Linked DNA regions of Homo sapiens. The protein of the gene in region 1 purifies or fractionates together with the protein of each later gene. This does not show direct contact. Each region holds a gene or a part of one and is shown on either strand. Other genes may lie near its edges. The genes, in order: RNASET2 and PDIA5.

Evidence for each region.
Region 2: the proteins of RNASET2 (region 1) and PDIA5 purify together in Homo sapiens (affinity purification with mass spectrometry; 3 studies listed by BioGRID and IntAct, with this or other methods). This does not show direct contact.

Annotation. Positions count from the first base shown.
Region 1 is NC_000006.12:166,953,551-166,969,455, forward strand, and holds the start of RNASET2 (ribonuclease T2 precursor), read right to left. Parts: upstream 3,001-15,905; 5' UTR 2,633-3,000; coding exon 2,547-2,632; intron 1-2,546.
Region 2 is NC_000003.12:123,115,691-123,131,161, forward strand, and holds part of PDIA5 (protein disulfide-isomerase A5 precursor), read left to right. Parts: intron 1-540; coding exon 541-608; intron 609-8,375; coding exon 8,376-8,467; intron 8,468-8,581; coding exon 8,582-8,653; intron 8,654-14,789; coding exon 14,790-14,926; intron 14,927-15,471.

The DNA.
Region 1 (15,905 bases):
TTAGTTGTACATTGGAACTAATTATGCAAGCTCTCAGTATAAAAGGAAAAAAGGGTTCAAGCGTGGTGGCTCACACCTATAATCCCAGCACTTTGGGAGGCAGAGGCAGGAGGATTGCTTGAGCTCAGGAGTTCAAGACCAGCCTGGGCAACATGGTGAAACCCTGTCTCTACAAAAATTAGCCAGGTGTGGTGGCATGAACCTGTAGTCCCAGCTACTTGGAAGGCGCTGAGGCAAGAGGATAGCTTAAGCCCAGGAGGTGGAAGATGCAGTGAGCCCAGATCACATCACTGCACTCCAACCTGGGCTACACAGCCAGACCCTGTCTCAAAAAAAAAAAAAAAGGATGAGCTGCAGGGTGAGAATTGGAGCTGGTAAAGCATTTTTTACCCTTGGGTGAAAAACCTTATTTTACATAGTCGGAACCTGAGGCTGGAAAGCTTAGCAACACCCAGGAAGATGAGACTATCAATATGCTTACAACAAAACTACCAAGACTCAGACGTTTGTAACAAACTCTCCATCTAAAACCAGGCAGAGTGATGTGACTGCAGGAGACCCCCTCCCACACAGATGCCCCCCTCCCCTATTCACGGAGAAAGTAATGGAGAAGCTAAAGAAAGTCAAAGAAGAAAGAAAAATCACCAAGGTCTCAAAACCAGTTAGAACTTGGGAAAATGCCCGCTGACCTATGAAGCCCTCGTGGTCTGAATCAACCATGTTCTCGCAAATCTTGCCTGCTCAAGTTTGTCCGATCATATCAGTTGCATGAATTATGGGCTGGGGTGGGGGATCCACATATGACAGCCTGTTTTATGCTAATGTTTACTTCCAGCCAGACATCATTCCAAGTTACATTCTGTACCTTAACTGATTTCTCCTGAAGCCAACTCTGTGAGGCTGACTGTTACTATTTCTACTTTACAGATGAGGAAACTGGGGCATAGAGAGCTCAAAGGTCCCACACCTGGGTGTGAACTAGCAGTTTCCACTCAGCCAGCAAGGGCCAGCATGCCACAGACTTCCCCAGTGAGAGGCTCTGAACCTCATGGCCAATAAATAAGGACATAAATGTAGCTCTTTTTCAGAAAATACACTTTCCGGAACACTGAAATATAATGCTACATTTTAATGTACATGATTAAAAATATATACCTAAGGTGTTTAAAAAGTAAAACCCTGGCCGGGTGCAGTGGCTCACGCCTGTAATCCCAGCACTTTGGGAGGCCGAGGCGGGCGGATCACCTGAGGTCAGAAGTTCGAGACCAGCCTGGCTATTAAAAATACAAAAATTAGCCAGGCGTGGTGGTGTGCATCTGTAATCCCACCTACTCAGAGGCTGAGGCAGGAGAATCGCTTGAACCCGGGAGGTGGAGGTTGCAGTGAGCTGAGGTCACGCCACTGTACTCCAGCCTGAGTGACAGAGTAAGACTGTCTAAAAAAAAATAAATAAGTAAAACCCACCTTTTCCACACCTACTATGTAAGTAAGAAATCCTATTAACCCGATCATTACCCAAATAGAAAGAAATAATATGGTATTCAAATATTGGTATCTTCCACAGAATTAAAGTTGGAGTTCTTTGCAGCACCGCCTGTTTACCCCTAATTAATTTGGGCGGCTGCCACACACACACACGCACACACGCACGCACACACGCACGCACACACGCGCACACACGCACGCACGCACACACACGCACACACGCACACACACACACGCGCACACACGACACACACGCACAGACGCGCACACACGACACACACGCACACACACGCACGCACGCACACGCACACGCACGCACACACACACGCACACACAAACGCACACGCACACACACACACGCGCACACACACACGCGCACACACACACACACGCGGAGGGCGAGCCAAGGGAAGGGATTCAGAACAGGATACTCAAAAAGAGGAAGAACCGTCGTTTCACCACCCGCCGCAGTGAAAGCTGAAATTAAGTGTCCCCTCCACGACTTCTTCGACCTCTGAGAGAACTTCGAGTGCAGGAACAGTGCTCCACCAAGCCTGCCACCTGCTTTGTCGCGTCCTAGGCTGGGAGCAGTCTGTGGGATGAGTTTCCAGTCCAGCTCCAGGCTGGAGTGTACCCAGGACCTCACCCTACCCCCTACTCCTTCCCAGGGGTCACCCCGGGGAGTGTTCAGGGCTCCCCAACCCACTTCTTCCCAGGAGTCACCCCAGAGCGTGCCCAGGGCTCCCCCCAACCCACTCCTTCCCAGAGGTCACCCCGGGGCGTGCTCAGGACTCCCCTCATCGCACTCCTTCCCAGAGGTCACTTCTGAGTGTGCTAAGGGCTCCCCCCAACCCACTCCCTCCAGGGGTCACCCCGAGGCGTGCTCAACTTCCCAACTTCTTCCCAGGGGTCACCCCGGAGCGTGCTCGGCTCCCCCCGCCCTCCCCAGTCGCTGCCCGGGGCTCAGCGACCGCCGACCCCGAGAGCTGCAGCCTTCACCCAGTGGAAAGCTCTAGGGCCCGGCTCCCACGCTCCCCACTTTACCTCGCAAGGTAACTCACCGCAGGCGCTTGTCCGCACCGCCCAGGCAAAGCAACGCCAGGCAGAGGCAGCCCAGCAGGGCCCCGCGCAGGGCTGCAGGGCGCATGGTGCCGACCTGCGGAGAGAACGCTGCCAGCTGCCGCTCCGGCTCCCACTTCCCACCTGCTGCCCGAGGAAGACTTCCGGGAGAAACGCTGTCTCCGAGCCCCCGCGCCGCCGCGCTCCCTCCGCTGCAGCAGCGGCCACCGGGTGCGCCCGGAGCCCTGGGACGGCCTAAACCAGTATCTCGCGGGCCCCGCGCCGGGCTCCGGGAATGGCCGCAGCAGCCCTGGCGACCCGGGCCCCTCGGAGCTCCCCTTCAGGATCGTGCACCAAGCGCGCACGTCCCGGGCTCTGCTTCGCGACCCACAGCGACCCCAGCTCCTCCACGCTGCAGCCGCCGTCCGCCCACGACCACGGTCAGTCGCGTTGCTCCCAGCCCAGGGCGCCCTGCGGGCCTGCACCGGAGCAGAGAGCCACGCCCCCAGGACGGCACGCCCCCGCCGGTGGACACGCCCCCCAGAACGGCACGTCCCCGCCCGGCGTTCACGCCCCGCCCCGTGGTTGGCTCAGAGAGGCCGAGGCAGGAGCAGCTCCGCGGGCCTTGAGGGCGTGTCAGGCGGCTGTGTTCCTTCGCCACGCAGGCGCCCCGCGCCTTTTCCCGCAGCTCTGCGCCACTCCCACACTCCCGGGTCCGAGCTAACCTAGACCACCCGTGAGGACCGCCCTCGGGGGGACCGCCCGTGTCTGCGCCATCCCCCGCCAGCAAGTGGGCGTGCGGGCCCCAGGGCCACTCTACTCTCCAGGGACAGCCCCCAGCCCGACCCGCGCACCCTGCAGGCCCGCGGTCCGCACGCAGCACCCGCTTTCAAAAACTGCGCCCTGCAAGCTGCCCGGGAGCTCCTGACTGCAGATGGTGCTTGGCCGCCCAGGCTCCCCGCAGCCTCCCGCCACCTCGGCGCTCCACTGCGCAGCCCGAGGGACGGCTCCAGAATTAGGAGGGGACCTACTCGGGTCACTCTCCTGGAAACCTCTCCAGTCTCCCGGTGCTAGGTGCTGGGAGCACCAACATTCCTAGAAGGGCCTGGCCCTCACCCAGCCCTGGGCCTCACCTGCCCCTCCCCGCGGGCCCCAGGAGCCCGGAAGTCATCTCTGTGGGGGCAGCAAAGAGCCGCCTCGGGGCGCGACCTGGGAAGTCATCTTGTGAGGGATCCCCTCCCAGAGGGACGGGCCACCCCCCACGGATGAAGGGGACTTCATGTCAGCCCCACCTTGGCGTAGCCAGGGCCAGTCCCATAGGCCCGGTCTCCTCCCCCAACACCCTGGCCTTCCCAGCCCTTCAGAGGCACGGGTTCCCCTGCACCCGCGGCCCCGCCCACGGGCTGTGCACCCGGCATTGTCTCTGCAGATGTTTCTCCTCTTTCCCTTCCCTGTCCGCACACCCACAGCTAGTTAAGGCTATTCCTATTTACACGTCGAGTAAACTGCGCCTTCCTCGGGGTCCTCTGCCACTGGTAACTGTCTAAATAGCAGGTGGGCCTGTAGCCTGCTCTCCCACAGGCCTGGACCTTGCCTGCATGCATTACCATTCTTTGAAACAAAATATTTAAATGATTAATCTGTTTTTCCCACTAGACTGCAAGGCAAGGCCCATGTCTATTTTGCCCACCTTGAGTCCCTGCCACTGAGCACAGTGGATGGGGGACAGTCGGTGCTCAATAAAATGCCACCTGTGGAACAGATGGGGGGGGAAAATGGCTGACACCTCCTTAGCTCCTCCAGGACCTCCTACAGGTCATGGTGTTATTCTCGTTCTCCTTTTCCCTAACGACTTATTTGTTTCTTTCCGGCTCCTTTCATTCCTTCCTCTCAAGAATATAGGCACACGCCACAGTTCTTTTTCTCTTTTCTTTTAAGCTAAAAAAATAATTTTCTTAAAACAAAAGTGCTTCCCAGAATCCTCATTTTCCTTTAAATCACAGTCCGGTGTGTTTAAACAGCCCCTTGTCAAGGAGGGCTGTTGTGACCACTGCCAAATATAAAGCAAATCTGGACTCGGGGAGGAGTGGTGTTATGAGGACCATTATTGCAGGGGCCTGGGGGCCTTTTGTCCCTACTAAAAATACAAAAATTTGCTGGGCGGGGGTGGCACGCGACTGTAATCCTGTGGCAGGAGGAGCGGCAGACAAAACCTCTCAGACACCGAGCTATAGAAGGAAGGGCTTTATTCAGCTGGGAGCATCGGCAAGCTACTGCCTTAAAATCCGAGCTCCCCGAATGCACAATTTCTGTCCCTTTTAAGGGCTCACAACATTAAAGATTTCACATGAAAGGGTCGTGATTGATTTGAGCAAGCAAGGGGTACGTGACGGGCTGCATGCACTGGTGGTCAGAGAGAAACAGAACAGGGCAGGGAGTTTCACAATGTTCTTCTATACAATGTCTGGAATCTATGAATAACATCGGTCTCTAAGTCATGAGTTGATTTTTAACTACTAGGTTTAGGCCAGGCAGGCCCAGGTCCGGTTTTGGGCCTGGCGCCGGGCTGCCTGTCTTTGATTTCACTTCCTTGTTTTTTTCTTAAAACAGGTACTGAGTATAAAACAATATAAAACAATATGAGAGGGTCTCTCTCTTCCCTCAATCCCAGCTACTCTGGAGGCTGAGGCAGGAGAATCGCTTGAACCCAGGAGGCAGAGGTTGCAGTGAGCCGAGATCGCGCCACTGCACTCCAGCCTGGGCGACAGAGTGAGACTCGGTCAACAACAACAACAAAAAGAATGAATGAAAGAAAGAAGAAAGAGAGAAAAAGAAAGAGAGAGAAAGAATGAACTGGGAATGGAGAAGTGGGATGAGAACCTGCCTTCATAGGACATTAGATCAGAGAAGGTTGACCCCGTGGCCAGCCTGTTCTCAGGGGGGACTGACTCAGGCTAAGATGAGGCCAAAAGTCCTCAGCCTCGGGGGAAGAGAGGAGCCTCACCAAGTTTGCTTAACAAGTGTGTTATTTCTATTGACTGGCTCATCATTGATGAGGTGAAGAATGGGAATTGGAGGATCTGTGTCTGGCTTTGTCCTAGGTAATGGGTAGGGGGTGGAGTGAGGGGAGCATCCGTCACTTTTCCTTTTTTTTTTTTTTTTTTTGGAGACAGCGCCCAGCTGCATCACTTCTATCACTCTTACCTATGTTATGTGGGGAAGAAGGGGGTCTCTCGCAGCAAGCCACTTTCCACAACTCACAGAGAGGAGATTTTTATCAGATAAATTCAGCAGCGTCCTACCCAGCCTGAAGAAGCCACCCAGTCATTTCCTGTTGCACTTCCTTGTTTATTTTCGACACAGTTCTCCCCACCCCTGAGAATTCTTGTCACTTCCTCCTGTACTGCCCACTTCTACTCCCCCACCCCCACATCGGAAGCTAATGAGGAGCTTCAGGCCCCTTGCTGGCATGGGCCCCACCAAGACCCCATATCTCATTCCGTATTCACAATTTTACCTTCTTGTTCTTAAAGAAGGACATCCAAATGGAAAAGCTCTCAACCCCCCAAAACTTGGATGTGAACCTGGAGCATCTGTCATCTGTCTTGTTCACTACTTGTCCACCTACCAGGATCCTAAACGGAACCCTACGTAGGGAAGAGGCAGTGGCTGTAAAGGCTGGATTTGGGTCTGGAAGCCGCCCAGCTTTACGAAAACAAAGAGGGCTCCAGCATCAAGCAGGTGGGCAGGGGCCAGAGTGGGAATTACATTGACTCACACAACATAGTGTAAAAGGGTACAAACTATGAGGTTTAAAAGATGCTGCTGGCTTGTATAGAAACATGTCCTTAGGAGAGGGGAGGGGGACAGGATGGCAACAGCCATGTCTATGAACAGACATCCTTAAATCCTTGTTAATTCTGAAGAGACCAAGATACTTTCACCACACAACCTCTTCTTGGCATTAGCTCCAGGTTTCCTGTTTCCATGCCAGCTTTTGCTGGGTTATGCTACAATAATACACCGCCCCCAAATCTCAGTGTCTCACTTAAACGGAAGTTGATCATTTATCATTCATTTGCCCATATTCCATGCTGGCTATGCGTCAGATGCCACTGTGGTCCACGGTATTTTTCACTCTGGAACCCAGGCGGTAGGAACAGCCCATATCTGGTGCTGGCCATTCCAATGGCAGAGCAGTGGCACAACTACACAGTTTAGGATTCTCATGCTCTAAAGAGCTTTGTCACACTTGAAAGAATCTCACCTTAAAAACTCCTTTCCATCCTGAATTACTTATTTGCTGAGAAAGTGAGGCCAGCTGCTGGGTGTTTCCCTGCCCTTTCTCTTCTTTTTCTTTTTCTTTTTTTTTTTTTGAGACAGAGTCTCACTCTGTCAGCCAGGCTGGAGTGCAGTCAGTGGCACAATCTCGGCTCACAGCAACCTCCGTCTCCCAGGCTCAAACAATTCTCCTGCCCTAGCCTCCCGAGTAGCTGGGATTACAGGCGTGTGCCACCACGTCCGGCTAATTTTTGTGTTTTTAGTAGAGACGGAGTTTGACCATGTTGGTCAGGGTGTCCCAGCACCTCTGGCCTTGCCATGCCAGCCTGGCCACTGTGGTACACATTTTGTGGAACTCTTTTATTCTGAGCTGTGGCCATGACAAAAGGAGGACAGGAGAGAAACAGAAAAGACCAGTCATGTGTTTCTCACAATATAATTTGTTCTTCAAGTGTGACTTAACTGATGGAACCAGAGGGAAAAAACTTTCTGGAACTAGACAATAAGAATAAATCAGATCAAATAGCATGCTATTATGAAATGTGAAGCAAAGCAATATATTACATTTAATCATGGATGTCAAATTTTCAAAGCATATTTACTCTGAAAAAGGAAAAGAAAAAAACCCATGAGCTTACACACACACTCACATGCACACACATACACACACATGCACACACATACTCCTATACACGTGGATATTAGGCTGCTTACTTGAGCTGTCTTACAATTATTTATCTTAAAAAGATAAGCAAGGCATTTTAGACTTCTGAGATTTTACTACATAACTGAGCTGCTTTACTTTAGATAAGCCCTTCTGCATTACAAATAATAGTTTAATATTACATTAACAGTTAATTTTGGCTGGGCTCGGTGGCTCACACCTGTAATCCCAGCACTTTGGGAGGCTGAGGCAGGCTGATCACCTGAGGTCAGGAGGTCAAGACCAGCCCTACCAACATGGTTAAACCCAGTCTCTACTAAAAATAAAAAAAAAAATTAGCCAGGCGTGGTGCCAGGTGCCTGTAATCCCACCTACTTGGGAGGCTGAGGCAGGAGAATCGCTTAAACCCAGGAGGCGGAGGTTGCAGTGAGCCGAGATGGCGCCATTGCACTCCAGCCTGGACTCCCTCTCAAAACAACAACAACAACAATTTAATAGATATTTAATAAGTATTTTTTAAAAAAATAATTTCAACTTTTATTTTAAATGTGGGGGTACATGTGCAGGTTGGTTACACGGGTATACTGCGTGATGCTGAGATTGGGGGTATGTTCATCCTGTCACCTGGGTAGTGAGCCTAGTATCGTATAGTTAGTTTTTCAACTCTTGCTCTGCTCCCTACCTCCCTTCTGTAATAGTCCCCACTGTCTACTGTTGCCATCTTGTCATCCATGGGTAACCAGGGTTTAGCTCCCACTTACTTATTTGTTTATTTTTTGACATTGGAGTCTTGCTCTGTCGCCCAGGCTGGAGTACAGTGGCCTGATCTCCGCTCACTGCAACCTCCGCCTCCTGGATTCAAACAATTCTCCTGTCATATCCTCCTGAGTAAACTGAGATTACAGGCGAGGGCCACCATGCCTAGCTAATTTTTTTTTTTTTTTTTTTTTTTGAGACGGAGTCTCGTTCTGTTGCCCAGGCTGGAGTGCAGTGGTGCGATCTCGGCTCACTGCAAGCTCCGCCTCCCGGGTTCACGCCATTCTCCTGCCTCAGCCTCCCGAGTAGCTGGGACTACAGGCACCTGCCACCATGCCCAGCTAATTTTTTGTATTTTTAGTAGAGACAGGGTTTCACCGTGTTAGCCAGGATGGCCTCGATCTCCTGACTTCGTGATCCTCCCGCCTCGGCCTCCCAAAGTGCTGGGATTACAGGTGTGAAATACCATGCCCGGCTGCCTAGCTAATTTTTGTATTTTTAGTAGAGATGGGGTTTCACCATATTGGTCAGGCTGGTCTCAAACTCCTGACCTCAAGTGATCCACCTGCCTTGGCCTCCCAAAGTGCTGGGATTACAGGCGTGAGCCACCGTGCCCAGCCTAGCTCCCACTTTTAAGTGAGAACATGTGGTATGGTATTTGGTTTTCTGTTCTTGCATTAATTTGCTTAGAATAATCCAGCTGCATCCGTGTTGCTGCAAAGGACATGATTTCATTCTTTCATTATGGCTGTGTAGTATTCTATGGTATATACATACCACACTTTCTTTGTCCAGCCTACCATGGATGGGCACCTAAGTTGATTCCATGTCTTTGCTATTGTGAATAGCGCTGTGATGAACGTGAGAGTACATGTGTCTTTTTGGTAGAATGATTTGTTTTCTTTTGGATAGATGGCCAGTAATGGGATTTTTCCTGGGTGAAATGGTAGTTTTTTTTGTTGTTTGTTTGTTTTGAGATGAAGTCTTGCTCTGTCGCCCAGTCTGGAGTGCAACGGCATGATCTCGGCTCACTGCAACCTCCGCCTCCCAGGTTGAAGCGATTCTCATGCCTCAGCCTCCCGAGTAGCTGGGATTACAGGCACCCGCCACCATGCCCGGCTAATTTTTGTATTTTTTAGTAGAGATGGGGTTTCACCATGTTGGTCAGGCTGGTCTCGAACTGCTGACCTCAGGTGATCCACCCGCCTCAGCCTCCCAAAGTGCTGGGATTACAGGCGTGAGTCACCGCGCCTGACCATGGTAGTTCTTTTTAAAATTCATTGAGAAGTCTCCAAACTGCTTTCCACGGTAGCTGAACTAATTTACATTCCCACCAACAGTGTAGAAATGTTCCTTTTTCTCCACAGCCTTGCCAACATCTGTTGTTTTTTGAGTTGTTTTTTTTTTTTTAAACAGGGTCTCACTTTGTCACCCAGGCTGCAGTGTAATGTCGTGAACATTGCTCACTGTAGCCTTGACCTCCTGTACTCAAGTAATTATCCTACCTCGGCCTCCCGAGTAGCTGGAACCACAGGTACACACCACAGCGCCTGGCTAATTTTTTAAAATTTTTTGTAGGCTGGGCGAGGTGGCTCATGCCTGTAATCCCAGCACTTTGGGAGGCCGAGGCGGGCAGATCACCTGAGTTTGGGAGTTCGAGACCAGCCTGACCAACCTGGAGAAAGCCCATCTCTACTAAAAATACAAAATTAGCTGGGCATGGTGGTGTGTGCCTGTAATCCCAGCTACTTGGGAGGCTGATTCAGGAGAATCGCTTGAACCCGGGAGGCGGAGGTTGTGGTGAGCCTAGATCATGCCACTGCACTCCAGCCTGGGCAACAAGAGCGAAACTCCATCTCAAAAAAAAACAAAAGTTTTTTTGTATAGAGATGAAGGCCTCACCATGTTGCCATAGCTGGGGTTTTTGACTTTTTAATAATAGCCATTCTGGTTGGTGTTCTGGTTTTGATTTGCATTTCCCTAACAATCACTGATATTGAGCATTTTTTCATATGTTTGTTGGCTGTTTGTATCTCTTCTTTTGAGAAGTGTCTATTCATGTCTTTTGCCCACTTTTTAATGAGATTATTTGGTTTTTGTTTGTTAAATTATTTAATTTTATGGTAGATCCTGGATATTAGACCTTTGCCAGAGGCAGAGTTTGCAAATATTTTCTCCCATTCTGTAGATTGTTCACTCTGTTGATAGTTTCTTTTGCTGTGCAGAAGCTCTTTAGTTTAATTAGATCTCACTTATCAACTTTCATTTTTGCTGCAATTGCTTTTGAGGACTTGGTCATAAATTCTTTCCAAAGGTCATTGTCCAGAATGGTGAGTCCTGGGTTTTCTTCCAGGATTCTTATAGTATGAGGTCTTTTAAATCCTTAAACCATCTTGAGTTAACTTTTGGTGAAAGATAGGAGTCTAGTTTCATTCTTCTGCATATGGTTAGCCAGCTATCCCAGCACTATTTTTCGAATAGGGAGTCCTTTTCCTATTGCTTATTTTTGTCAACTTTGTGGAAGATCAGATGACTGTAAGTATGTGGTATGCTGCTTCATTTCTGGGTTCTCTACTCTGTTCCATTGGTCTGTGTGTCTATTTTTGTACCAGTACCATGCTGTTTTGTTTACTGTAGTCTTTTTTTTTTCTTTTGAGATGAAATCTTACTCTGTGGCCCAGGCTGGAGTGCAGTGGTGCAATCTTGGTTCACTGCAACCTCCGCCTCCTGCCTCAGCCTCCTGAAGCTGAGGATTCTCCTGCCTCAGCCTCCTGAGTAACTGGGACTACAGGTGCGTGCCACCACACCTGGCTGATTTTTTATATTTTTGGTAGAGACGGAGTTTCACCATGTTGGCCAGATGGTCTAGATCTCTTGACCTCGTGATCCGCCCAAGTCAGCCTCCCAAAGTGCTGGGATTACAGGCATGAGCCACCGAGCCCAGCCTACTGTAGACTTATAGTATTGTTTGAAGTTGGATAGTATGATATATCTAGCTTTGTTCTTTTTGCTTAGGATTGCTTTAGCTACTCAGGCTCCTTTAGGTTCCATATGAATTTTAGGATAGTTTTTTTCTAATTCTGTGAAAAAATGATGTTGGCAGTTTGATAAGAATAGCATTAAGTCTATAGATTACTTTGGGCAGTATGACCATTTTAACAATATTGATTCTTCCAATCCATGAGCATCAAATGCTTTACTCTTTGTGTCATCTATGATTCCTTTTTTTTTTTTTTTTTTGAGATGGAGTCTCGCTCTGTCACCAGGCTGGAGTGCAGTGGTGCAATCTCAGCTCACTGCAACCTCTGCCTCCCAGGTTCAAGCGATTCTCCTGCATTAGCCTTCTGAATAGCTGGGACTACATGTGTGCACCACCATGCCCAGCTAATTTTTGCATTTTTAGTAGAGTCAGGATTTCACCATGTTGGCCAGGATGGTATCGATCTCTTGACCTCGTGATCTGCCCATCTTGGCCTCCCAAAGTGCTGGGATTACAGGAATGAGCCATCACGCCCAGTCTCATCTATGATTTCTTTCAGCAGAGTTTTACAGTTTGCCCTGTAGAGATCTTTCACCTCCTTGGTTAGATGTATTCCTGGATATTTTATTGTTTTTGTGGCCATCATAAATGGAATTGCTTTTTTTTTTTTTTTTTTTTTGAGATGGAGTCATGTTCTTGTTGCCCAGGCTGGAGTGCAGTGGTGCGATCTTGGCTCACTGCAACCTCTGCCTCCCAAGTTCAAGCAATTATCCTGCCTCAGCCTCCTGAGTAGCTGGGATTACAGGCGCCCACCACGATGCCTGGCTAATTTTTGTACTTTTTAGTAGAGATGGGGTTTCACCATGTTGACCAGGCCAGTCTCGAACTCCTGACCTCAGGTGATCCGCCCGCCTCGGCCTCCCAAAGGGCTGGGATTACAGGTGTGAGCCACTGCGACTGGCTTATTTTTTTTTATTTTTTTGAGACAGAGTCTTACTCTGTTGCCCAGGCTTGAGTGCAGTTGCACCATCTCAGCTCACTGCAGCCTCCACCTCCTGGACTCAAGCCATCCTCTCACCTCAACCTCCTGAGTAGCTGGGATTACAGGTGCCCGGCACTACACCAGGCTAATGTATTTTTAGCAGAGACAGATTTTCGTCATGTTGGCCAGGCTGGTCTCGAACTCCTCACCTCAAGTGATCTGGCCACCTCAGCCTCCCAAAGTGCTGAGATTACAGGTGTGAGCCACCACACCTGGCCCTGGAATTGCATTCTTGATTTGGCTCTCAGTTTGTACATTATTGGTAGATAGAAATGCTACTAATTTTTGTGTCTTGATTTTGTATCCTGAAACTTCACTGAAGTCATTTATCATTCCAGGAGCCTTTTGATAGAGTCTTTATGGTTCTCTAGGTATAGAATCATATTATCAGTGAAGAGAGATAGTTTGATTTCTTCTTTTCCTGTTTTGATGCCTTTTATTTCTCTTGACTGATTGCTCTGGCTAGCCCTTCCAAGACTACGTTAAATAGGAGAGGTGACAGTGGGCATCTTTGTCTTGTTCTGGTTCTCAGGCGGAATGCTTCTGGCTTTTCCCCATTTGGTATGTTGGCTATCAGTTTGTCATAGATGGCTCTTATTATTTTGAAATATGTTCCTTTGAGGCCTAGTTTGCTGAGGGCTTTTATCATGAAAGGATGTTGGATTTTACTGAAAGCTTTTCCCATGTCTATTGAGATGATCATATGGTTTTTGTCTTTAGTTCTGTTTATGTGATGCATTACATTTGTTGATTTGTGTATGTTGCTGCTGGATTTGGTTTGCTAGTATTTTGTTGAGGATTTTTCTGTCTGTGTTCATCAGGGATATTAGCCTGTGATTTTCTCTTTTTTTGTTGTGTCTTTGCCAGGTTTTGGTATTAGGGTGATTCTGGCTTTGTAGGATGAATTAGGGAGGAGTTTCTCCTGCTTGATTTTTTGGAATCATTTCCAAAAATGATTCCAAGAATCAATCGAAGAGCTAGGATTGGTACTAGCTCTTCTTTGAACATCTGGTAGAATTCAGCTGTGCATCCATCTGGACCAGGGCTTTTTTTGTTTGGTAGGTTTTTTATTACTGATTCAAGTTTGGAACTTGATATTGTTCTGTTCAGGGTTTCAATTTCTTCCTGATTCAATCTTGGGAGGTTGTGTGCTTCCAGAAATGTATCCATTTCCTCTAGATTTTCTAGTTTGTGCACATAGAGGTGTTGATAATAGTCTCTGAGGACCTTTTGTATTTCTGTGGTATTGGTTGCAATATTGCCTTTGTCATTTCTCATTGTGCTTATTTGGATCTTTTGTCTCTCTCGTTTTCTTTGTTACTCTAGCTAGTGGTCTGCCAGTCTTGTTTATCTTTTCAAATAACCAGTTATTGGTTTTGTTGATTCTGTGTATGGATTTTTGCATCTCAATTTGGTTTAGTTCTGCTCTGATTTTAGTTACTTATTTTATTCTGTTAGTTTTAGGTTTAGTTTGTTGTTGTTTTTCTAGTTCTTCTAGGAATTATATTAGATGGTTAATTTGAGATCTTTCTAACTTTTTGAGGTAGGCGTTAAGTGCTATAAACTTTCCTCTTAACACTGCTTTTGCTGCATCCCAGAGATTTTGGTATGTTGTATCTTTGTTTTCATTTATTTAAAATAATTTTTTAATTTCTGCCTTAACTTTATTGTTTGCTCAAAAGTCATTCAGGAGTAAGTTTTTTAATTTCCATGTAATTGTGTGGTTTTCAGAGATCTTCTTGGTATTGATTTCTATTTTATTCCACCGTGGCCCAAGATTGTGGTTGGTATGATCTTGATTTTTTGAATTTATTGAGACTTGCTTTATGGCTAAGCTAGTGATCAATCTTGATGTATGTTCTGTGTGCAGATGAGAAGAGTGGTTGATCAGTGGAGTGTTCTGTAGGTGTCAATTAGGTCCAGCTGGTTGTGTCCAATTTAAGTCCAGAATTTCTTTGTTAGTTTTCTGCCTCAATGACCTTTCTAATGGGGTGTCGAAAACCTCCGCTACTATTTTATGGCTGTCTAGGTCTTTTCATAGGTCTAGAAGTACTTGTTTTATGAATCTGGGTGCTCCAATGTTGGGTGCATATATATTTAGGATAGTTAAGTCTTCTTGTTTAACTGAAATCTTTATCATTATTTAATGCCCTTCTTTGTCCTTTTCTACTTTTGTTGGTTTAAAGTCTATTTTATCTGATATAAGAATAGTGACTCTGGCTCTTTTTTTTGTTTTGTTTTCCATTTGCATAATAAATATTTATCCAATCCTTTACTTTGAGCCTATGGGTGTCATTATGTATGAGATGAGTCTTTTGAAGTCAGCACTCGGATAGGTCTTGTTTTTTCAATCCAACTTGCACTCTGTGCCTTTCAAAAAAAATAAAGATAGGATCTCACTTTGTTGTCCAGGCTGGTCTCAAACTCCTGAGCTGAAGCAATCCACCCACCTCAGCCTCCCAAAGGATCACAAGCATGAGTCACTGTGCCTGGCCATGACATTCTTTATAACATTTTATTTTTCTTGATACAATTTCTTTTGATTTTCTTTATAAAATTCATCTTTTTGTCATTAAAGTCCTGTTTTGTACTGTCATACATTTGGCCTCAAATTCCATATCAGTTAATACACATATTGCTACTCCTGCCTTATTTTGTTAAAGGGAACCCTGGCTCTTTTTAGTTGAAATTTGTATTTAGAGGTCATAGTCCTGGCCCAAGGGTTGCTTATTGCCCCTGGGTTGGTCCTTGTTTCTAACACTTTTCAGCAGATAGAGCTAGGAAATAAATTTTGTTTGCTCATTTGTTCTATTTATGGTTTTTTTTCTTTTTCTTTCTTTTTTTCTTTCTTTCTTTTTTTTTTTTTTTGAGATGGAGTCTCACTCTGTTACCCAGGCTGGAGTGCAGTGGCGTGATCTCAGCTCACTGCAACTTCTGCCTCCCAGGTTCAAGTGATTCTCCTGCCTCAGCCTCCCAAACAGCTGGACTTACAAGTGTGTGCCACCATGTCTGGCTAATTTTTTTGTATTTTTAGTGGAGACAGGGTTTCACCATATTGGTCAGGCTGGTCTTGAACTCCTGACCTCAGGTGATCCACCTGCCTTGGCCTCCCAAAGTGCTGCGATTACAGGCGTGAGCCACTGTGCCCGGCCTTGATTTATGTTTTTTTAAAAGAAAATATATCATGAGTCCATATTGACATTTATAAATCAAATTTAGGAATAAAAGGGTTTTCTTATTTTGTTATTTTATTTTGTTTTCTTATATTGACATATCTTTGCATTTTCCTTTAATCTCTTTCAAGCATTTGGCCACAAATTAAAAAGTAGAGTCTATTTAGTCTAAAGGCTATCTTGTTCCTTCCTCAAAATATAGTTAGTCATTAAAGTAATTTACTTTTACTCTTGGAGCTGATTTTGGCTTGGGAAGCTAGTTAAACCACAAAATTGTTTACCTGGACTAGATTAAGATGATGACTTATGACTTGTCTTCACTAGCTTGAAGTAAACCAGATGTCCTCATCATTTGGCTTTTATTATTGTCCTAATAAGTCTGTGTGTGGGATGGCTAATTGGCTCATCATAGTGTTAACCTTCTGTACATGTCTGTTAATATCAACATCAAACAGAAGCATCGGG
Region 2 (15,471 bases), on another chromosome or scaffold:
ACCATCAGCCTGCCTCTGGTCATTGCTTAATTATCCTTGTTAATGAAAGAGAAAGGAGGCATGGACATCCCAAAAGTGATCGTATTCGTGGTCACACATTTTTCTTCATAATGGCATTTGACTCCAGCTCATTTGCAGGCCCTGCCTGGGCAGTGAGGGGTGGCCTTTTGCTGTGCGTGCAGCAGTTGCTCTCTTGACACCTGTTCTGGTTTTCTGAATCTCTGTTGAATTCATTATCAGTGCTGAAGTATTCTGGGCTCTGCTCTTCTCCCATCATGTCATGTTTGTTTCTTTAGTCCAACATTTATGAGTGGCTGCTGGGCAGTGCCTTGTTTTGCACCACTGATACAGTAAGCTCTTTGGGGGCTGAGACGCCCACCTCCTGTTCCTTTTGTGTCCCCAGGGTCTGGAATAGTCCTGAGCTTCTCAAGGCTGGATAAGTGCTTGTTGGGTAGAGGATGGCCATGGGGAGGCAGGGCAGGGTGCAAGGGCTCAGCCATCCCTGTAACCGGATGTGGTCTCTCTCCTGCCTGTGACCAGGGTGCAGCATGTGCAAGAGGATGATGCCGCATTTCCAGAAGGCTGCGACTCAGCTGCGAGGCCACGCCGTAAGTGAGGCGCCATTGCCTGGCAGGGCTGGGTCACTCTTGGACTTGGCGGAGGAAGGGTGCCAGGGGTGGGGTGGGGACAGGTTTTGAAATGGTGAGGATGACTGACCCTGCTGCCTGGGCCGTTGCTGAATCGCAGCCTTGCATGGAGCTCAGAGACCTGTTCTCTGTGAAGGTTGAGAACTCCACCAAGTTGCTGGGACCAGGAGAGTTTGACACCTGCCAAAGGCCAGTGATGAAATAGGACACCAGCAAGATGCACATGTGGCATTGTCAGGGGGCCAGGGACCAAGGTCGGAACATCGTGGGTCCAGAATTTTGAGGGCTGGGCTCTGAAGTGAGCTGAGGCAGCTGCTATGGAGCCCAGTGGCAAAGAAGAGGGTGTGATGACCTTAGGGGTGGACCAGAAGCATAAAGGGGGCTCACAGAGGCAAAGGCCTGTCCCGGCTTCCCAGGCTCTGTGGTTCCTGTGGGGCGGGAAGAACGGTGGGAACCAGAGGAGGAGGAGGTGGGGCTGGATGGGGAGCGAAAGACCTGGGAATGCAGGCATTCTCCCAGAAGGAGTGTAGGGAAGGATAGGCAGAATGGAGACACATGTGTCCTAGGGATGCCCACCTCTACAGGAGGAGGAAGAGGAGCCACTAAGGAAATGGGCCTTCAGAGAAGTAGGAGCAGCTGGGATGGGGCGGGGAGGTAGGAGGGGAGCCTGGAGTGTTGTGGGGGAGAAGAGAGCTGGGAGGGGGGATGGACCTCACACAGAAGGGCCGAGGGTCAGTCACCAAATGCTCCCTGGTACCTCTGTGTTCCCCCACCCTGCCAGGTTTTTTTGTTCTCTGCCTTGTGTCTATTATTTTTTCAATGTGGTAAAAAACACATAACATTACATTGACTATCTTAGCCATTTGTAAATGTACAGTTCAGTAGCATTAAGTATATTTACACTGTTGTGCAACCTTTCTCTAGAACTTTTTCATTTTGCAAAACTGAAATTCTGTACCCACTAAATATGAATTCTGCCTTCCCACCCCACTCCTGACCTTGATAAACTGCCTTTCTACTTTCTGTTTCTATGATTTTATATATATATATATATATATATATTCTGTTTTAGAGACAGGGTCTCACTATGTTGCCCAGGTTGGACTTGAGCTCCTGAGCTCAACCGATCTTCCCGTCTTAGCCTCCTGAATAGCTGGGACTTCAGATGTATGCCATCTAGCCAGGCCCATTTCTATGATTTTGACTATTTTAAGTTACTCCTATGAGTGGAATCTATAGTATTTGTCCTTCTGTGACTGGCTTATTTTGCTTAGCATTATATCCTCAAGTTTCATCCATGTAGCATGTCATAGGATTTCCTTCTTTTTTTAGGGCTGAATTATATTCCACCCTATGTACATACCACATTTTCTTCATACACTCATCTGTTGATGAGTTGCTTCTAGCTTTCTTGGCTGTTGCTCATAATGCTGCAATGAACATGGGTGTGCAAATACCTCTTTGGGATCCTGCTTCTAATTCTTTTGGATATCTGTTTATCCATTTTTGCACTTACCCCGAGTAGCAGAAGTGTCTTGATGGCAACATAAAAACAGCTGCCGGCTCCTCTAGGGAGCGTGGAAAAATCCATCCATCTTTCATGAAAGGTTATCAAGAGGAGCCATCTCAATAGTGTGGCCAAAGCCCCATTAAGGGAGACCTGAGGTCCTGAAACTGCATCATGATCTTTGTGGATCAAATTAAGTGGTGATTAGCTCAAAGTCAACTTAAAAAGTTTAAGTGGCAGCACCTGGGCATGGAGACGGCCCTGCTCGCCAAGCTGCAAGATGGGGCTGCAGAGAGCCAATGCTTTCTCTTTTGACCTCATTCTGGGGTGACACTGAGGTCCTGCTTGCTTCTCACTAATGAATTTTTAGTAACTTGCCTGGAGACATTGGCCTTGGGGCACACATACATCACCCCAGGGAAGTTTCACTTCACATTATTGGGACCTCAATAGACACCATATTTTGAGATTATTTAGCCTGGAGAAAAGACTTAATTACCCACAGTATTCTCTCTGCCTGCACCCGCATACACTTAGAAATCTGCTCAGCTCAACTTCCCGAATTCTGTGCTGTGGAAGGTAAGCAGCTCAGCCCCAAATCAGATCACAAGTTATTCCAGCCAGACCCACTGAAGCAGAAGAGAACTTGATGCCAGTCTCAGTGCATCTCGTGGGCCATTCTCAGCCAATGCTGCATCCACTGCCAAACTCAGTATTCTTCTAGGCCCCATCCCACGCTGCCACAGAGCTCATCCCTGTCACGCACAGCCAGATACGTTCATCTTTGCTTTTGTTCCAGATCACTTTGTTCAGCACTTGATACTAATTATGATATGTGAGTTTCTTGGGCACAGGAGTTGTGTTCATGTCTATTTCTTTAGCACATAGCACAGGGCTAAGCTCACAGTAGATATCCAGTATATGCCGATGAATGAATAGGGTTTTTGCTCATCACTCCTGGGGGTATGTTTTATTTTAAGCTCTATATTAAAAGTGATGGTCCTCTCTTTTAAAGGAATTCAGAGCATTTGTTATTAAGGCCGGAAGCATAGTGGGAAGGACATTTGTGGGACAGGTTATAAGGTTAACTGCAAAGACCACTCGTGTTCAGAATATAAGCTTCCAGCAGGGCATGGTGGTTCATGCCTGTAATCCCAGTGCTTTGGGAGGCCAAAGTGGGAGGATCACTTGAGGCCAGGAGCTAGATACCAGCCTGGGCAACATAGTGAAACCCCATGTCTACAAAAAATTTTAAAAATTAGCTGGGTGCAATGGCATACACCTGTAGTCAATGCTAGCTACTTGGGAGGCTGAGGTGGGAGGATCACTTGAGCCCAGGAGTTTAAGGCTGCAGGGAGCTATGATTGCACCATGCTCTGCACAACAGAGTGAGATCCTGTCTCTAAAAAAAAGAAAAAATGAATTCCAGCTTCTTCTGCCTGGGCCCAGGTCTAGAAATATAAAAGTTACCCATTCCAGTTCCCTCAACATTACAGAAAAGTCAGGGGCGTTGTCTGCAAAGCTGGGCAAGTCAAGCTGTGACCAGGTGTTGGCTGCCTTGGCCTAAGACATCTGGGTTGTGTAAACTCATTTCTTTGTTTGTATATTTTCTTGCTTGGGGTTTGTTTTGTTCTATTTTCCCTTTCATTTCCTAGAAAAGCATCTTCTGGAAAGTTCTAGCCCTTTCCCAGCTACATAAAGAGGGAAGGGCCCTGGCCGCTGCACGCATCACCCACGCAGGAGGCCCCTAGAGGCTAGGGCTTACTCTGCAGGGGCAGCTCCCCAGAAACTGGGGACCTGGCTGGAGGGGTTGAGTGACCACAGGTGTCAATTGCTTTTTGTCTTCACACACAGAAAAGAGGTGGGACTAATAAATGGGCTGCTATTCCCCAGAAATCAAAGTTCACCCCCTCCTCGCTGCTGAAACACAGCTGGATTAGGGCCTTCTGTCACTTCTTCATCTCTGTCATCTTTGAGCCTTTTTGGCTGGGTCTGTCTCTGGCAAGGGTCAAAAATCTTCCTCCTCTACAGATTTTTTGGGAGGTGTTCAACCTGATTGACATCATTAGGAAGGAAGGCATGCCAGGTCAGGGATGCACAGCCTTTGCCATTTCCAAACTTACAGCTGCCTCTTTTGTGCTGTCATTGACGTCTGGTGACTCATCGCGTCTGTCCCATCTACTCCTGCTAATTGACATCCTCATTAGCAGCCACGCTGCCCCCATCTCAGAGCAGCCATCAGAATGAGCCCTGTCTCCATCTGCCTCTTCCCAGCCTTGCCAGTTATTGACATCTGCACTGAGCCTTTGAGCTTTGCCTAGTCTTTGGTGGACCTCGGCCATGATGGGCCAGTCTGGGTATAAACACCATGAAATAGAACCATCATGACGACAGATTTGTACAGACCAGGCTCTAGTGCTGGCTCTTGCTAACCAGCTGGGAGATCTTGGTCCAAGCTCCTTAGCCTTGGAGCCTCCATTTCTCCATCTGTAAAATGGAGATGATAATGCCAACCCTGCCCACACTGGGTTGTGGTGAGGAACAAATGGGCTGTGTGGAAGAAGCCCTGTACCCCACAGAGCACTCATAGACACAGATGACTGATCCCCTCTCTTCCCTACAGCTGCCCTGCACCACATTCCTTCCACCGGCTAGATGGGGGTGCTCCCAAGGTTCCGCTTTCCTGTTAACACATTGGAGCAAGGTTTTGTCTTATTACAGTCTACCTTCCAGTGACCACATCTCTGTCCATAGCTTCAACAAAACGTAGCTCCATGGAGCCCAAGTCCTTCCCCTAAGTGCCAGTGCCACGTGTCAGATGGCTTGCTTCACAGCTCCATCTGGATTTTTTCCCTTGTGTCTCAAATGCATGTCTGAAAATTCAGTATCTTTCCATCTGGCAGACTGTGAACTTTGCATTAAGTCCTTTCCCCAGGGGCCAGGCTCTTTCCCCACCCCCCACCTCCACCTCTCTTTACTGAGGCATCATCAGGCATCTTCCTCATGCACCCTTCATCCTCTCCCTGCCCACCAGCCCTGTCCAGTGGGCTATGCTAGCTGGTGGCCAAAGGCTGCTGACTTGTCTCCTGACCACAGCATTCCCTCATAGCTCGTCCTTTCTGCTTCGAGAGATACAACTGGTTTGAGGGTTGCTTTCTTACTTAGAAACCCTCGGGAGCTCTCCGTCACTTCCTGAATACAGTCCCGATTTCTTAGGTATTTCAAGCCTTTCCCAAAGTGATCCTGGCCAACTCACTCAGCCTTTTCTTTCATGTCTTCTCCTTTCTGTGTATCCTGCCTTCCAGTTAGATGGAAATGTGCTCCATTTCTTGGGCCACATCTTTCTTTGCCTTGCCTCCAGTTCCCCATCCCGGGACGTCTGTTGAAATCTTACTCTCCTCTGAGTGCAAGCTCACATGCAGCCCACGCTAAGAAGCTGCCGTGATGGTTCCTGGCAGCAGGGCTGAACACACAGAAGAGCATGTCACGCCAGCTGAGTGGCCCCAAGCATGCAGATGGCAGTGGGGAGCAGGGAGGCTGTGTTCTTATCTTCTCCACAGGCCGAGACCAGGTGTGTCACCTCATTTGACTTCACAAATTCTAACTCCAGAAAGTGTTTGTATGTAGTTTTTCAAAAATTTTTGCCTCATTAACTAATAGATGCCCCCAAAATGGCACAAAAGTGCTACAGAAACTTGGAGAATTAAGAGCTCACCCCAAGCGAAGGTGGTTTGCAAAGGCTGCCCAGAGACGTGAGGTTTGATTTGCCTTAAGGGATGGGTGAGTCTGGAGGGTCGCCAGGAGGCGGGGGATGGGCAGCCTCAGTAAGGGGACTGGAAGGCACCAAGTGGGGGCCAGGAGAGAACAGCGAGTGTTCCAGAAGTGTGGGCAGAAATAGAGCACCTCCTAGTCCTAGTAACAAAAATAGCTAATACATTTTGTGTTATTGATTATCTTGTATTATTTCATTGAATCTTCTCAACAACCACATGAGGTGGCTGCAGATGAGGAAAGTGAGACGCAGAGACAACTGTGACTCATTCAAGGAAATGCGCGACCCCATGGGGAGTTGGGACTCAAACCCAGGCATCCTGAGTCCATGCTTCCAGCCACTGCATGTTGCTGCTGCACTCAGCAAGATGTCTGAGAAGGCAGACAGTCCAACTTCCTTCCTGTGCAGAAATCTCAGACTGTCTTATTCCTGGGAGAATAAAAAATCTAGACCCTAACAGGTGTACAATGAAGAGTTTTGTAAGAAAGAAAGATTCAAAAATGAAATAGGTAACATATGGGCATTGAATGTGGAGCTGGATTTTAGCCTATATTCAATGGAATTGGAAGGTTTTGTGCAGGGAAGTGATGTAATGAGCGAGGAGGACGTGTAAGATTAATCTGTGGTGAATGTGCACTGACACTGGGGAGATCAATTAGGCAGAAAAAAAAAGGACTTTTAAAGAAGACAAATATTACTGGAACAGGCCGCTGGAGCAGTCTGGGAAATGAGCAGAATGACTTTTATAGAGCGTTCCAGGGCTTCAAGTAAATTCGAATTCAAATTTATTCTTCCTGTATTATTTGCTGCATCCTAAAATGGGCTAGGAAAAAAAAAACAGTGAATTTAGTGAGCATTTATTGTGTCCTTGCTGTATGTGAGGCCTTGTGCTAGGGACTTAAAACAATTGGAAAGATATCCAGGTGCCCCTAGGAATGGAGAGGCCAGAGGCACAGTGGCTCCCATCACCAGGAAGACTTGGTAGGAAGATGACAGTTACTGAGCTCCAGTTTTGTGCTAAAACCTCTCATCTCATTTAGTTCTCTAAAGAGCCCTTTGATGGTCACATCTTCCAGCAAGGGACCTCAGTGAGGGTGAGTGACTTGCCCAAGGTCACATGACTCATAAGTGGAAGCTGTCTTTGCAATCAATTTATTGTCCACTGAAACGGTTATTTATTTTCCTCTCTCTCTGTGTCCTTATGTATTATTCAGTAAAGTTCAGCTTCCTGGGTTTCTTCTCTCTGCTTCTGTAACTACTGCTGGCTTTTTTTACTTACTTTTCCCTCGCTTCTATGCCACTCTGCTTTGTGGAACAACCTTTGTGTGTCGGGCCATTCTAGCTGTGTTCTCTGGTAAGAACAGATTCAAAGTCCTGGCTGGGCATGCTGGCTCATGCCTGTAATTCCAGTGCTTTGGGAGGTTGAAGTGGGAGGATCGCTTGAGCCCAGGAGTTGGAAGCCAGCCTGGGCAACACAGCAAGACCTCATCTCTACCAAAAAGAAAAATATACTAGCCGGACATACTGCCACATGTCTGTGGTCCCAGCTAATCAGGAGGCTGACAGCGGAGGATTGCTTGAGCCCAGGAGTTAGAGGGTGCAGTGAGCTATGATCATGCCACTGCAGAGGGAGTTTTAGGGGATTCCTTATATGAGTCAGTCTTAGTATTTAGCTACATCGTCGGTTACCCAGCTACTAAAATACTCTTTCTGATTCAGGGATAGTGGACATGTGGACCCCTGGAGCCAGAATATGTTCAGAATTCTGAGATGATGATCCAGCCAGGCTGTGGGTAATGGTCACCAACAGGAGGAAACACTGGGGAGACACAGCACGGCCTGGAAGGAGGAGAGTTAGGCAGGTGCCTCGTTTCTCATGTTGTGTTATGAGAACCACACGGCCTCCCTGGCCACATATAAGCTGTGAGGTTTGGAAACGTCACACTCAAGCCTAGGTGAGCAAACCGTGAGGTATCCAGGAAGGTGTCTAAGGACGTTGTACAGAGCTGAATTGGTGTATGAAAGCCACTTATTTCCATAGCCTAGGAAAGAGTACAACCCGAGTTGACATGAACAGAGAAATAGGCGTAACACATCCTTGGCAGTGGCCCCTCTCTGAGAGTAATGTGAACTTGATGGCAAGGCCCGGCTTCTTCTGCAACCCTCAGAACGTTGGTTTTGCTCTGGGGTGGTTCTTCCTGCAGGGAGGCAGAGGGAGCAGGCGTGCGGAGTGCAGCACTCGGCCCAGCTGCCTGACTTCTCCAGCGCCAGGTCATGATTCCCGGCTGGCTTCGCTGGCCTTGTTTCTCAGCAGCCCTGATGCACATCAGTCTGTGGGGCTTTGTCCCATATGTCTTTCTGGTGGGACAGCAGCTGGACAGATGGCGTGTGGACTAGAGGGTGTCTGTGGGGCACAGGCTCCACACGGCTCTTCTCCGCTTCCTCCCAGGTGCTGGCCGGGATGAATGTCTACTCCTCTGAATTTGAAAACATCAAGGAGGAGTACAGCGTGCGCGGCTTCCCCACCATCTGCTATTTTGAGTACGTCCCCCACTTTCCTTCTAAAGCTCACCTCCCTCCCTGGTGATTGACCATAATCTCAGGGTGGCATTTGCATCCGTGACTGAGCCCACGTTGTTTCTCCACGTTTCACAGGAAAGGACGGTTCTTGTTCCAGTATGACAACTATGGGTCCACAGCTGAGGACATTGTGGAGTGGCTGAAGAAGTAAGTGGGGTGTGTGTGTGTCAGTGGGCGTGGACCCAGAGGGCGGGGCATCTGCCGGGCCTGAGGGTCGCAGGGCTCTGGCTGGAGGTTGGGGGAAAGAATGAGGAAGGGAATTGTGGTACTGCCTACACAGCTGTCTCTGGCTTGAGTCTAGGCCACTGTGGGGATTGTGGGAATTTAGGTTGCAGGAGCCATGAGGATTTGGTGTGACTTTGGCCTGTGATGATCAGACCTGCCTGGGTGTTGGGTGTGGAGTCTGTCTCCCCTACCTCCCGTCTCCACGGGTTGGAACTGGGGAGGGGCTGCCTAAGCCTGTCAGCTCTTCTGGAATAGTCAGGGCCTTTCTGAATTCTTCCCACATTTCACATCAAGTTTCTCCTCAACACATCTATCTGATGGATAGAGGTATTTCTCACCCAGGCTACCAGGTTTGAGAGAGGTTCCACTGCAGGTCTCTCTGAAAATAGAATTGTCAGTTGAACACTTATTTCAAACACAGCACTGTCTTAGGTGCTGTGAAGGTACTAAGAAATATTCTAATGCCTTAGGTTTGCTGAGTGCTTTACTGTTCAACCCCCACAGGCATTGCTTCATTGCAACCTGTGATCCCTGTTTTATAACATGATTAGATCCTTGTAATGCCAAACCCCACCACCCTGTTGGCTCCTGCCTCCTTACCTGGAGCCTCCACTGTGCTAGGCCTGCTGCTTTGTCCTGCCAGATCACCCCATTCCCACTTCTCACCAGCACTTCCACGACAGGCTCACGATGTCCCCTTCTGGAAGCCTCCCCAGGCCACCCTCGCTGAGCACGCACCCTACTCAGGCTGCGCTCTGTGTGTCACGAGTTTGGCACTTACCAGCCACTGCTGCTTCATGAGTATTTGTGCATATGTGCTGGAGTAACAACAGCCAACATCTTTTGGGCTCTCCTTTGTGGCTGACATTGTTCTAAGCACTTTACATGGATTCTCATTTAATCCTCACAACAGCACTGTAAGGAAGATGTTACCGTTCTCTTCATTTTATGAATGAGGTCCCTGAGGCACAGTAAAGGGGTGGTGCCGGTAAGCAGTAGCAGGGCCCTGATGGGTCCCCGCCACCAACCCAGCTCCCTGCAGCCCCGACAGTCCAACTTAGCCTCCTCAAGTTCTGCTCGGAGCCCCTCCCCTCAGCTGCCGGCACAGTGGACATTTATTGACATCATTACCTTAGGAACACAGTGTGCAAACCCCAGGGTTAAAGAATTAGTTATCCAAGATATGGAGGTTGAAAATGTGTATTTTCAAAATGGGAAAGAAGGGTGGGTTTTGTACCAGGAAAAAAATGCACATGAAACTAACTGTTAGATTTCTAAAGGTGGAGAGTCTCCATCTTCTGTTCTGCCTACTCTCGGGAGATAAGGCACAAGTGCTAGCACATGTTTGCATCATGTCTTTTATTTCTTGGAAGCATTCTCACATCTCTGTCCCCATCGGCTACCTCATTTCCAGCCCCTGCCTGGGAAGGCTGCTGCCCATTATCATGTGTTCATTGTCTTAACCTGGGCCTTTGCTTTCCTGTTTTCCTTTTTCATTTGATAATAAGCGTGTCCTCTCCTCTATCCAGACACATCTCATTCTGCTTTGGGAGAAGGTCTCAACAAATAGCAATCTCATTTGTCACTAGAGCATAAAATCTGTCTGCTTCCCTTCCCTTCTCTAACCTTTTCTGATTTCAAAACACCCTCATATCTTTTTTGGAAGGATAAGGTTTATGTGGTTTTTTTTAAGTATTCAGAATTACCTGCTAACCCTAGACAAAGGGAGCACATCAATGGTGTTTCTGAAACAGGCTATTATCTCCCCGCTGGAGCCTCCTACTCCATCCTCCCACCCCTCTCCTCTCGGCACACCCCATCCCGGCTCCCCCACCCGCATTGCTCCGGCTGGCCTGCACCCCACAGCTGCCTCCAGTCTCTGGTCCTGGGTACCCCATCCCCACTTCCTACTTCCCCCCATCCCCCGCTGTGGGAGAGAAGGAGCTCTTGTTAACGGCCTTATCCTCTGCAAGAGCTAGTAATGTCATTCTGCTACCAGCTGGCTTAATTTTTTAAAGTCTTTTCTGATTTCAGAGATACTCAACTAAGATAGGCTTATTATAGAAAAACCTAAAAGTGTGGTTAAACAAAAAGTCCTCCCCCACCCTATTACCCAAAGATAGCATATTGTTATTATTTCCCCTACATAGATCTAGCTCTGCATGTGGGTTTTCCCGGTCCCACATGGATTAAGCCTTTTCCAGTTTCCCCTCACATCCTTTTGGGCAGTAGTGACCTCATCTTTCCTGCTTCTCTAGGTTTCTCCATTGGCTCTTAGCTGCTCAGGGCTTCTGTGCAGCCAAGTATACAAAGATGAGGGTGAAGCCAGCCTAGCTAATTCTCCAAATGGCTCTCAAATGCCTAGGAGAGAAGACCTAGGTCCTGCCCTTCAATGCGTGACTCTGGTGGTTGGACCAGGGAAGGGTGGCACCAGGTGAGGCAGGGCAGGGAGTCAGCCCCTGGCATCTGAGTGTATGAGGGCTCTGGAGTAGATGTGTTGATCGTGGCACTGGTGTCTTTTGTGTTCCTAATGGCCACGTATCTCATTGGCCACTTGAAGCTGTCACTGGTGAGTTGGGCTAGCAGACAGGTGGAGGGGTACATAAGCAGTGATCCATTTTGGGCAGGGTCATTTTGGCCTGTGTAGCTTTATGCCAACCAGAAGTGAACTGAATTAGCAAACACCAAGTTTTCTGGACTCGTAATGCTTAGAGTTGCATCTTCTCATCTATGGCACATGCATCTCCCTTAGATGAGGTTCTGATTGTGTGACCCTCCCAGTCCTAGAGAGCCTGGAACAATTGCTCTCTCCAAACTGCAGAGCTCATGAAATCAGTCGCATGAAGGCAGATCAGAAGGGAACATACAAGTCATCAAATCTGCACCAGCAATTCTCCTTTCAATGTTTGCATTTCCTCACTCCCATTGGACTCATTCTGAGGTTCCCCATTCATGCTTGAATGACTCTTATGATTTAGGTGATAAATGATATCTAGGAGCATTTGGGTAGTACTTTATAAAGTTACAAAGCATCTCACATCCATTCTCGGCCTATATGAGCCTGAGAGCTAGGTGAAGAAAGGACCACAATGCACTATCTTGTCACTGTTTTAAGCTGTTTGATTGTGGCTAGTGGAGGAAACAGGACTCAAGTCAGGTCTTCTGACTCCCAGTTTGGCCTTCTTTCCCTCTCCTCTGCTGAAGACAGAACATTCTTATTTACACCGAACTGGAGTTTCTCTGGAGCTTCCACTTGTTAGTGTTGGTTCTCCTCTTCAGGGCCCTAGAAAATAAATCTTAATTTCTTTTCTTAATGCAGTTTGGAATATTTGATGATAGCCACTGTGCTCTCTTATGTCCTTTCTCCGAATTAAACACTTCCAGTTCCTTAAGCCATTTTTCCCTGAATGAGGGGAATGAGCCTTCCCTCATTCAAGGAATGCTCCTGTTCAACGAGCATGTATTGAGTGTCTGCTGTGTATTGGGTGCAGGAGTTAGTAAAGGGGTGAGGGAGAGCCCAGTCTTCAAGGAGCTCACGGCCTGGGGTAGGCGGGGAGTGAAAAGCATCATTCAGTGTTTTGGGTTCAGACTCTCACTCAGTCCCTCTCTTCCCAGTACATCCTCTTACCACGGTGCCCAGTTCTCCAGTCCTCTCCCAAAAAGAAACTTCCAGTCATCTCCTGGGTGGGAGAGGGGAGAGCCCTAGGATCTGAGGATCTGACCACTCCAGTGACCGCTAAACCCTGTTTTCAGCCACAGGCTATAGCTCTGCTTCAAGGAGTGGGCCCCTGGGCCCTTCAGAGCCTTGTCTTCTGTGTGCGTGTGGTTCTTGGGCCCCTACTCTGCTTTTTCTGACCAGAAAGTTTTTTGTTTTTTGTTTTGAAACTCCTGAACTGTTATTTTAGCAGTTTTAGAGTGTATTCGCCTCTGTGTTTAACTAGAAGTTCCTCCCGTTCTTTCCTTCCGGTGCCTGTACTCCTGCAAAATATAGCCTTCTCCATCCTATATTTGTGCACTTGCTTGACTTTTTAAAAATTTAGTTTTTGAGTCAATTACATTCACATAATTCAATTTATTTTTTATTTTTTATTTTTTTATTTTTTTAGATAAGGTCTTGCTCTGTCACCCAGGCCAGAGTGCAGAGGGTACCATCATAGCTCACTGCAGCTTTGAACTCCTGGACTCAAGCGATCCTCCCACCTCAGCCTCCTGAGTAGCTGGGACTACAGGCACAGGCCACCATGCCCGACTAATTTTTTTTATTTCATATTTTTGTAGAGATGGAGTCTCACTCTGTTGCCCAGGCTGGCAAAATTTTAAGGTGCTTAAAAAGAATACATTCAAAAGTCTCGCTTTCACTTCTTTCCTCCTTATCCTCCCTCCTATACCCTAGAATTTACAACTTAGACCAGTTTCTTTTATGTTCTTAGAGTGTTTCTGTATGTAGATATTAGCAAATGTGAATAAGTATATTTTATCTCCCCCCTTTTAATGCAAAAGTTAGCAAATTCTAGACTGTTCCATCCATCTCCAGCAGTTTGTCCACATCAGTGCATAGAGAACATCATTCTTTGCAGTGCTCAGCCCTCCCTCGTGTAGATGGACAGCAGTTTACCTAACCCGTCCTTCCAATTTTCGCTATGACAACCTGCAGTGAATGCCTTCAGATGCACATAATTTTGTATGTGTGCAGGTGTATTGTAAAGATAAATTGCTCTGAAGTGTAATTGGTGGTGTTTTGAGGGGTCAGTAGTTTGAGCCCAAGTATAGGAACCTAGATTGCATGATGTTTGTCTAGGACCATTGTCTGGCTGGTGACTCATTCTGAAGCTTGATTTTGTCACCAGTCCCATCTGACATTGGATATGCATGGACTGAGATTGATTTGCCCTCTCCCTGCCTCCTTCCATTTCTTGGGACCTGGGAGGCCATGGTGGCCAGTGGGGCCCAGTCAGAAGGGCCAGAGAGGGCTTCTGAAGGCGACATCATACCCGGCTGCGGAGGGAAGTGGGTGGCAGAGTTCCATTGTGTCAGCCACTTCACTCCCTCTGGATTTTCCAGCCCTGGCTGCTGGAACTTTAAAATATTTCCTCCTGTAGGCTCTCAAAAGTGCGACACAATGGTTGTCTTTTCACATTTGTCATCCTTGAGGGTTTTTTCAAAGCTGCAATTAAGGTGCTCTGGCAAAGGTAGTTGTGACAGTAAAGCAGCAGGGAGACTGTGTCACCACCAGCCACCTTGTCCTGAACTTTGGGGCAAGGGAGGGCCCCTGCGAGCCTCCCTCCTCCTAGCAGATGATGACCTAGGACTGGCACACAGTCACGCTGCGGAAACAGGCTCCAGAGAGGTCAGGCGGCTGCCTAAGGTTTTGCAGCTGATGAGTGGTAGAGTTGATTTGGCTTCTGGGAGAACTAAATAAGTTGGTTGTTGGCCTCTGGGAAGGATTAGTGATGTAGCATACACGCTGTCGTAGTTAGGATACCCCCAGCCTTACTTCCCTTGCTGCAACCTTCCCCTGCACCCCCATGTGGCAGCTTCCCCTTGCATGGCCTAGATCTGATCTTTCTGAGATACCTGGCCTCTCTCTCTCCTCCTCACCCCCTCCTCTCTGTACCCTCTTCCTCCCCTCCACTGCCCAGTGGGCAGTTTTAAACACAACAGTGAGCTTTTCCAAAGGTCACCATTCACTGTTGCTATTTATTCTTTCCAGTTTGCTGAAAGTTTGAAATAGGTTGAGAAAGCTAACAAGCCCCTAGATTCCCAGGAGGAAGTGAGATTTCTTAGGCTATCTAGAGAGCTGTAGCCAGAAGCCACTGTTTGTAACAGGATATCAGCTAAGTACCTGTCTGGGGCTTTGCGGGGAAGGTGGAGGTGGGCAGGGCCACACCACTCACCCCACGGCACCTCCATGAGGGCAGTTTCTGGTTTGTTAAAGGCTGAGCCCCTGGAGTGGGCCGTCCCGAGCCCATGGGGAGCTTTGGGTCCAGGGGCCTGGAATTAGAAGGGCTGCCAAGGCCCCAGGGCCTGCTCTGAGCTCTGCCTGTTTTTGGTCTTCCAGTCCGCAGCCGCCACAGCCCCAGGTCCCTGAGACTCCCTGGGCAGATGAGGGCGGCTCCGTTTATCACCTGACCGATGAAGACTTTGACCAGTTTGTGAAGGAACACTCCTCTGTCCTCGTCATGTTCCACGCCCCATGTGAGTGGAACTTTGCTCCTCCCCCTCCACACCCTCCCCTCTCTCAGAGTAGGATGAGTGTGGCGCTTTGCAATGTGAACCCAGGAAGCACTTATTTTTTGGATGCCAGGACCCATGCTAAGCCAGGGGATGCAGTGGTGACAGGCGAGGTCCCCACCCTCGTAGTGCACATGGCCTACCCCCCATTGCCATGGAAACAACACAGAAGTCCTGATCAGGCTTTACTTGTCCCTTAGCTAGAGCTCAGTGAGTCTCCACCACCCCTAGCTCTGAGCATCTTCCTCCCAGTCAGCATGAATTGGAGAAATTAAGCTGGAAGCACCCTGAGATGTTACCTAGAACAGACTGGGCCTGGAAATAAAATTAGGGCTGATACCTCATATGGGGGCTCATACCTATAATCCCAGCACTTTGGGAGGTCAAGGCAGGAGGATTGTTTAAGGCCAGGAGTTCAAGACCAGCCTGGGCCACATAGCAAGACCCCATCTCTACAAACAATTAAAAATTAGCTGGGCATGTGGTGCACACTTGTAGTCCCAGCTACT